Linked DNA regions of Homo sapiens: region 1 is linked to region 2. A link means that fine-mapping ties the variant in region 2 to the expression of a gene that starts in the linked region. Tissue or cell type: whole blood. Region 2 holds a variant in brackets; the other region holds the start of a gene. All regions are shown on one strand. Distances are between the middles of the regions.

Evidence for each region. PIP is the estimated chance that this variant, and not a neighbour inherited with it, causes the effect. A credible set is the group of variants that fine-mapping cannot tell apart.
Region 1: it holds the start of CD33, and the variant in region 2 is the best candidate, but not a certain one, in a credible set for the expression of CD33 in whole blood (TOPMed, PIP 0.57).

The regions. Positions count from the first base shown.
Region 1 is chr19:51,222,842-51,227,232 of GRCh38, reverse strand. CD33 (CD33 molecule) reads right to left here and starts at 2,153. Exons shown (of 7, transcript NM_001772.4): 1 at 2,078-2,153; 2 at 1,635-2,015; 3 at 1,152-1,430; 4 at 877-924. The coding sequence starts at 2,114. All of the region lies in intron 2 of LOC107985327 (a long non-coding RNA gene), which reads left to right.
Region 2 is chr19:51,271,722-51,276,112 of GRCh38, reverse strand. The region is part of intron 1 of LINC01872 (long intergenic non-protein coding RNA 1872); the gene reads right to left. Among named protein-coding and RNA genes, the nearest start is that of LINC01872, 2.7 kb to the right of the region's middle. The variant A/G (reference allele first, on the strand shown) is at 2,648.

The sequences.
Region 1 (4,391 bases), 49 kb after region 2:
GCATTTATAGAAAGGAAAGGAAATCAGTATATTGAAGAAACGTCTGCACCTCAATGTTTATTGCAGCATTATCCACAATAGGAAGATATGAAATAAACCTAAGTGTCCAACAACAGATGAATAAATAAAGGAAATGTGGCGTATATACACAATGGATTATCATTCAGCCATAAAAAATAATGAAATCTTGTTATTCACTATAACATAGATTGAACTAGAGGACATTATGTTAAATGAAATAAGCTAGGAACAGAAAGTTGAATACCACATGTTCTCACTCATAAGTGGAAGCTACAAGAAGTTGATTTCATAGAAGTAAAAAGTAGAACAGAGAATAATAAGGGCTGGGAAGGTTAGGGGAACAATGATAAGGAGAGAGATTTGTTAAAGGATACTAGATTACACCTGGAAAGGAAGAATAAGTTCTGGTGTTCTATACCACTGTAGGATGACTATGCTTAACAATAATAGATAGCTTCAAATAGCTAGAAAGGGGATATTGAATGTTCCCAACAACAATGAAATAATAAATGTTCAAGATGATGGATATGCTATTACCCTGATCTGATTACTATACATTATTAGTATGGAAACATCACTATGCCATCCATAAATATGTACTATTATTACATATCAATTAAAAATAAAATACCCCAAGACATTCAGAGACAGGAGGGAGACAAAGAGCATTATTTGGATGGGCAAGGGGGAAGTTGCTAGTCATCCCCAAATATCCTTTTCCAAGGTGCCTGATGTCTACCCGTGTCTAACTGCAGGCCTTGCCTCTGAACATTTGACTCTGAAAGTCCAGATCTGACCAAACCTGACACAGACTCAATGTCAGTAACAGCCCCAGGCGGGGAGGCTCCTTCCTACCTGAGCCATCTCCTGGAAAGATACCAGTTGTTGGGTTCTGTGGAACATCTAGGAGAGGAAGAGAGGATTTCCTTCAGTTGGGGGTAGAGATGAGATAAGGGTAGGCATTTCCCCTTACTCCTGCCAGAAACCACAGAAATGCAGAAGGGACAGGGCTCATGTCCTTCTGGCTCCCGAACTCAGCCAGGCCTCCAGGACACTAAATGTCCCCAGCACCAGCCCATCCTGTCTCCCCTACACCCTCAGGGACCCCAGCATCCTGGCCCAGCACTTACAGGTGACGTTGAGCTGGATGGTTCTCTCCGTAGTCACACCAGCTCCAGCGAACTTCACCTGACAGGTCAGGTTGGTGCCGTGGTCCTGGGGCCGTGGGGTGATTATGAGCACCGAGGAGTGAGTAGTCCTGGGGCCCAGGGAGGTGGGGGCAGCTGACAACCAGGAGAAGATCGGGGGTGTTCCCTGCTCACAGGCCCAGGACACAGAGCAGGTCAGGTTTTTGGAGTGGCCGGGTTCTAGAGTGCCAGGGATGAGGATTTTGGGCCTGTGGGTCAAGTCTAGTGAGGAGAAAGAGGGGATGCAGAATCAGGAGGGAGGGTCCAGGTGAGGGCCTGAGAGAAGATCAACCTCTGGTCAAGCTCCCCCGCTAAGCACGACAGGCTTTACCCCTAAACCCCTCCCAGTACCAGGGTCCCATCCCAGCCCTGCCCTGCAGTACCCATGAACTTCCCTTGCGGCCACTTCTGAAGCCTGTGCCTCACCTGTCACATGCACAGAGAGCTGGGGAGATTTGTAACTGTATTTGGTACTTCCTCTCTCCATCCGAAAGAAGTATGAACCATTATCCCTCCTCCTGGCGTCTACGATGCTCAGGGAGCAGTTGTTCCTACTGGGATCCCCAAGGAGGCGGAATCTGCCCTGAGTCTCCTCCTGTACTTCTTGATCTAGCTTGTTTGTGGCCACTGGAGAGTCCCTGGATATAATGGCTCCTTCCCGGAACCAGTAACCATGAACTGGGGAGTTCTTGTCGTAGTAGGGTATGGGATGGAAGAAAGTGCAGGGCACGAGGACGCACAAACCCTCCTGTACCGTCACTGACTCCTGCACTTGCAGCCAGAAATTTGGATCCATAGCCAGGGCCCCTGTGGGGAAACGAGGGTCAGCTCGGCCCAGCCCGACAACCCCTCTCCCCACAGCCACTCACCTGCCCACAGCAGGGGCAGCAGTAGCAGCAGCGGCATGTCTGAGGAAGCAGCTTCCAGGGCTTCCTGTGTGAGCAGAAAAGAGGAAGGGAGTGGAGGGGAAGGACTACAGGGCCGGACAGGAAGCTGGGGAGGAGCAGGAGACCTCAGCCCTGCATGGAAGAGGAACCTCAGACCCACACATGCTCAGAGCTTGTCCCCTCCACACAGATTGACCCTCATGGGCCAGAGATGCCAGAGACCCGCCCAGAGATGGGAGGAGATGGAGCAGAATCTGAGTCTTGCCTTCCAGGAGCACCAGAGCCTGGATCAGTACCTTCAGGGCCATCTGAGACATGCGAACCCCATGTCTAAAGTCCTTCCACTCTGAGGTGCTTTTCTGTGCACAACTGTTTACACCAGGGCTGATCACTGCTGGCCTGGCCCGAGTCGCAGCCTCACCTAGATCCATGGGGTGTTTAGTCCAGCAGGATATAGGATTCTATAGGGTCCGTGTGAGTGTCTGGGGCAGAGAAACAAAGAAGAGTCCTAGGTAAAGTGAAGGTGGCAGCCATTCATTTATTCATTCATTCACTAAAGATATAGTGAGTGACAGAGCAGGAGCACCGTCATCTCGGAGAAACACTGCCTCTTTAAGTTCCAATTTCCTTTCTAGCCTCATGCATTTCAAGGAAATCACTTCTCTGCTAACTACAAGCAACCAGAAAGAGCAGACAGTGAAACACAGATAAGACAGCTCGGGCACAGAGGGAGGTAGGGGGAGAGTCTCTTGAGTTACTGCCAAACTTCACCCTCATACAATGGCCCTAGTAAAACAGTGGGCCTTAATAAGCAAATTCCTTTCCCTTCAGGTGCACTAAGATAGGGAAGCTAAAAGCAGACTCAGTGGGTATGCCTGTAGCTGCAGAAAGATGTATGGGTACAGACACACACCTCTCTCTCCCAGATAAGCACAACAAAGAGACTCAGAAGCAGTCCAAGTCTCTGATAAACTCTCCCACCCTAAATCCTTAAAAACTCTTAGTCTGTAAGAGAGTGTGCCTCTGACTTAACTCGGCCAGAAACTCCTCTCAGGTTTGTTTTCTCTAAAATCTGTCTTGACTGGTGAGCCACCATTCGTGTTTCTTTCCTCTTTCTTTAATTCTTACAGTGAGCCTTTGTGTATAGGTGGGGCTTGAGAAGAGATGCCACTGACCTGATTCCTGCCCTTAAGATACTCCCCATCCATAGCCTCATGTCCTCACCACACACACACATGCTGTCTGGCTTTAGAGCTGTGAAAAGTTGGGAATTTGCCATGTATCATGGTAGCATATTGGAAATTTTAAAAGAAATATGACTATAGAATTTTCCCCTGGCACCTAGTACACTGATTTGCACAGTGTCAATGACATCTCCAAAACAAGAACCATGCAGCATCTTCCTGTGAAACAAAAGGGAGAACACATGTTCTATGAACCAGTGCAGAAAAAACTTCTTTTCCATTCATGCTGCCATTTGGTTCAGTGTGGGCAGAAGCAAGTTTTTTTAGAGGCTCATCATATGGATCAACATTTTCTTTCATGTAAAAATCTGCTTCTCACAGTTAAATATGGCCCAAAGACATAATATTTCCAGACAACATGAGTGGAGTGTACAGAGAAAATTAAACTTTAGGTCCAGCTACATGGTTTTCCATATCACTCTGTGTAGTATGCATCCAGCAAACCGTTGATCCCTGGGACATATTAGTACTTGCCACCATACCTTTGTCAAATCTCTACACACAATAGTATCTAGATAACTCTTCATTCATCCTTACTAATAGAGAGGTAGCTGCATCCTCATTTGATATACAACAAATTAAGTCTCCAGTAAATAATATCTGTTGTAAGTTATTTAAATATTTAGCATGTGGCACGTAATAGAAAATTCAATACATTTAGTGCTTTTTTTTTTAAGACAGGGTCTTGCTTTGTTGCCCAGGCTGGAGTGCACCGGCCTGACCACAGTTCACTGCAGCCTTGACCTCCCAGACTCAAGTGACTCTCCCACGTCATCCTCTCTAGTAGCTGGGATCACAGGCTCATACTACCAGGCCGGAGTAACTTTTTGTTTTTATGTTTAGGAGAGATGGGGTCTTGCTATGTTCCCCCAGGCTGATCTTGAACTCCTGGGTTCAAGCAATCCTCCCACCTCGACCTCCAAAGTGCTTTGACTATGGGCATGAGGCACTGTGCCCAGCCACATTTAGTTTTAACAATAAAGTCATACTATGTTCATGGACCAGAAGATCAAATATGAATATGTGAGTCTTACTGTGTTTCTTTAATGAAT
Region 2 (4,391 bases):
TGGAGCCTAGGAGTTTGAGGCCAGCCTGGGCAACATGGAGAAACCCCATCTCTACTAAAAGTACAAAAATTAGCCAGGTGTGATGGCACATGCCTGTAGTCCCAGTTACTCGGGAGGCTGAGGTGGGAGAATTGCTTGAACTGGGGAGGCAGAGGTTGCAGTGAGCCAAGATCGCGCCACTGCGCTCCAGCCTGGGTGACAGAGCAAGACTCCATCCCCACCATAAAAAAAAAGTAAAGCTTCCATGCTTGCAGGTACCAGATGAATGGGGCCTGTTTGTGAAGACATAGGAGACTCCTTGGGGACTCCTAGAAAACTTTTGGAGGAAGATGACAAGGAGACTCTGCAGGGGGCTCTGCAGCTGAGGAAGGACAGTGGAATTTCCATTACTCCATTGTTCCAGTGATATTTCCACCATTGCCCCTTCACATTTCCACATCTGCATGGCATCCTTTTAAATTATAAATCAATCATGTCAGTTCCCTGTTCGTTACCATCTGTTGGCTTCACTTTACTGTCAAAATAAACTCCAAAATTTGACAGATTTTGGCAGACTGCTAGAAATACTACCTAACCCTACTTCCCCTCTGTTTCTCTTTCTCTCCTTGGTCAGCTTCTGCCCCTTCACAGTACGCAGGGAAGTAACTCTGTATCTATTCTGACCAGAATGTGAGTTCCTTGAGAAAATTAGTCATGTCCAAATATCTTTTGTGTGTCATGTTGGAATCACCTTTGTGTACCACTTCTGGGTGGCCTTTGTGTGTCATGCCCAAGGTACCTTTATGTGACATAATGGAGTCCACCTTTCAAAGTCAAGTCTGAGTCACTTTTGTGTCTCTAGTACCCAACACACAATCTGGAACACAGCTGGTGCATAATAAAGCTTTATCAAATGAAAGAAGATTTGGAACCAAGAAATTTGGGGTTTTGGCAAGGCGCGGGGACTCACACCTGTAATCCCAGCACTTTGGGAGGCCAAGGCGGGCAGCTCACTTGAGGCCAGGAGTTCGAGACCAGCCTAGCCAACATGGCAAAATCCCTTCTCTACTTAAAAAGCAAAAATTAGCCAGGCGTGGTGGCATGCGCCTGTAGTCCCAACTGCTCAGGAGGCTGAGTTATGAGAATCACTTGAACCCAGGAGGCAGAGGCTGCAGTGAGCAGAGATTGTGCCACTGCATTCCAGCCTGGGAGACAGACAGAGAGAGAGAGAGAGAAAGGGAGAGAAAGAGAGAGAGATAAATAAATAAATAAATAAATCTGGGTTCTAGCTGTGGCTCTGCAGATACCTTAAAATAAATAAATAAATAATACCGAACAATCATGGTGGCCCATGTGCTGTGCACTGGAGATTCACATACTTTATCATTCTCAATCTCACAACAGCACTGTGATGTAGTTCTCAATGCATCACTTCGCAGATAAGGAAACTGAGGCCCAGAACAGCATAGGAACTAGTCAGGTTCACAGGGCCAAGAAATGGACATCCTGAAGTCATAATGTAGGTCCCTGGACTCCGAACCCAGTGTTCTTTCCGGTATGCCAGGCTGCCTTCAGAACTGCTGTGTCATCACGGTTGAAGCCTCTTCTCCTCTCTGAGTCCCATGCTTCATGTATAAAATATGGGAATAAATCAAACTGTCCTGTCCACCTCACAAGGTTTGAGAAAGACAGTGGGAAAAGCATATAGTTTTGCACCATATGAGTTACAAATGTCTTCCCCCTCGACTTGTGTGGTAGGCAAAATTCTAAAGATGTCTCCCATTCCAAGATTCCTGTGCCCTGGTTATTCAATTAAACATTAATCTACGTGCTTCAGTGAAGGGACTTTGCTGACTGAGTGAAGGGACTTTGCTGATAGAGTGAAGGTGACTAATCTGCTGATCTTAAATTGAGGAGATCATCCTGCACTATCTGAGTGAATGTAATGTAATCACGTGAAACTTGCAAAGCAGAAAAGTCAGAGAGATTCAGGAGAAAGAAAGGGCATACATGAGCCAGAAGTGGAGGTCAGAGAGATGTGAAGCATACGAAGGATTTGACTCACCATTGTTTGCTTTGAAGATGAAGGAACGAACCCACGAGCCCATGAGGGCAGCTCCTAGAAGCTGACAATGACCCCAGCAGACAGCTAGCAAGGGAATGCAGACCTCACTACTACAAAGCATGGAACTGATTCTGAATGTGTTTGGAAATGGGTTCATCCAAAGGGACTCGAGAAAGCAACATAGCCCTGCCAACACTGTGATTCAGGCCTTGTGAAAGCTGGAGCAGAAAACCAGGGGAACCACGCCACACCAGAACTTTTGACCTTCTGTGAGATCATACATGAGTGTTACTTTAAAAGCTGCTAAAATTGGGCTGGGCCCAGTGGCTCATGCCTATAATCCCAGCACTTTGGAAGGCCAAGGCAGGTGGATCACATGAGGCCAGGAGTTCCAGGCCAGCCTGGGCAACATGGCAAAACCCTGTCTCTACTAAAAATATTTTTAGAAAATTATCCAGGTGTGGTGGTACTTGGGAGGCTGAGGAATGAGAATAGCTTGAACCCAGGAGACAGAGGTTGCAGCGAGCCGAGATTGCACCACTGCACTCCAGTCTGGGTGACACAGTGAGACTTGGTCTCAAAACAAACAACAAAAAAGCTGCT[A/G]AAGTTGTGGTAATTCTTTTTTTTTTTTTTGAGACGGAGTCTCGCTCTGTCGCCCAGGCTGGAGTGCAGTGGCGGGATCTCGGCTCACTGCAAGCTCCGCCTCCCGGGTTCACGCCATTCTCCTGCCTCAGCCTCCCAAGTAGCTGGGACTACAGGCGCCCGCCACTACGCCCGGCTAATTTTTTGTATTTTTAGTAGAGACGGGGTTTCACCGTTTTTAGCCGGGATGGTCTCGATCTCCTGACCTCGTGATCCGCCCGCCTCGGCCTCCCAAAGTGCTGGGATTACAGGCGTGAGCCACCGCGCCCGGCCAAGTTGTGGTAATTCTTATGAAAGCAACAGGAAACCCATACAACTTGGATGTGAAGCCAGTTCAAAGGAAGGGTTCTAGATTCTTCTGTGAGTGGACGGCCAGCAGTCCAAAGGCTTGGTCTTTGCCTCCCATTTTCTAGGTTTTTCTGGGCCAGGCCCTTCCCTCACTAGGGAACTGCTTCCTCATTTAAGATAGTCTAGAGTTTGCAAATTAGTGGCTTTGTGAGGTAGTTAAAATGCAGGGGGTTTTATTTAGCCTGCATTAAGAAAACTGCATACAGACTTTCTTTCATTAGTTGCAATGTTTAAAAATCAGGATCCTCACATAAAAGTCTGAACTCCCAGCTACTTTTTAATAAATTAGATCTGACAACACATGGCAGATATTAACTTTCCCCTTTAATATTGGACAATTGTTCTCCAGTCCATTGCTGCCCCTGCTCTCCCTGCTGCACTCACCTGGGAGGGGCATATAACACAGTGGTTAAGACCGTGTGCTGAGTCAGCCTGCCTGAGTTTAAGTCTGGCGCCACCATTTGCCAGCTGTGTGACTGTGGGCAAATTACTTCCCCTCTCTGGGTTTCCCGTTTCCTCACTTATAACATGTAGATTTTAACAGGATTCATCTGACAGAATTGTTGGGAGCATTAAATGATTAAATGAATGAATGCATGTAAAACCCTCAGAACAGAGGCCAGCACAAAATAAGTGCTAGGCAACTGTTTATCATTCACATCACCTGCCTGGTTCCCTCAGCATTTAATTTGTGACCGCTCTTGACTCATCTCTTTTCTCAGTGATGTTTTGATTCAAGAACCAGCCCTCTGCTTTTCCATTCTGATCGCTGCCTCTCTTAAAAAAACGACTCCCTCCTTACATCAAGATGCTACTCAGGCTTCCAGATAACAAATCCTATCTCTGCATCATAACCCACTTTTGCTTTTTTTTCACTATCAAAATCCTTCCTCCTCCTCCTTTAATTTACAACCTCGAATCAAAGGTTGGGAAGAGCTCTGGGCTGGTTCCAACTGGGGCTTTGCCAGTAACTCGTTGGATAGCTCTGGGCAAGTTCTGTCCCCTTTCTGCTTCCCCCTCTTTTTCCTCCTCGGTAGAATGGGAGGGTTACTGCAGACTATGTAAGGGTCCTTCAGATTCAAAAACTCTGATCTCTCACATCTGTAATCCCAGCACTTTGGGAGGCTGAGGTGGGAGGATCGCTTGAGCCCAGAAGTTTGAGACCAGCCTGGGCAACACAGCGACACCCTGTCTCTACAAAACAATTTAAAAAATTAGCCCGGCATTGTGGGTGCAGCTACTCTGGAAGCTGAGGTGGGAGGACTGCTTGAGCCTGGGAGGTCGAGGCTGCAGTGAGCTGAGATTGTGCCACTGAACTCCAGCCTGGGTGACAGAGCAAGACACTGTCTCAAATTAA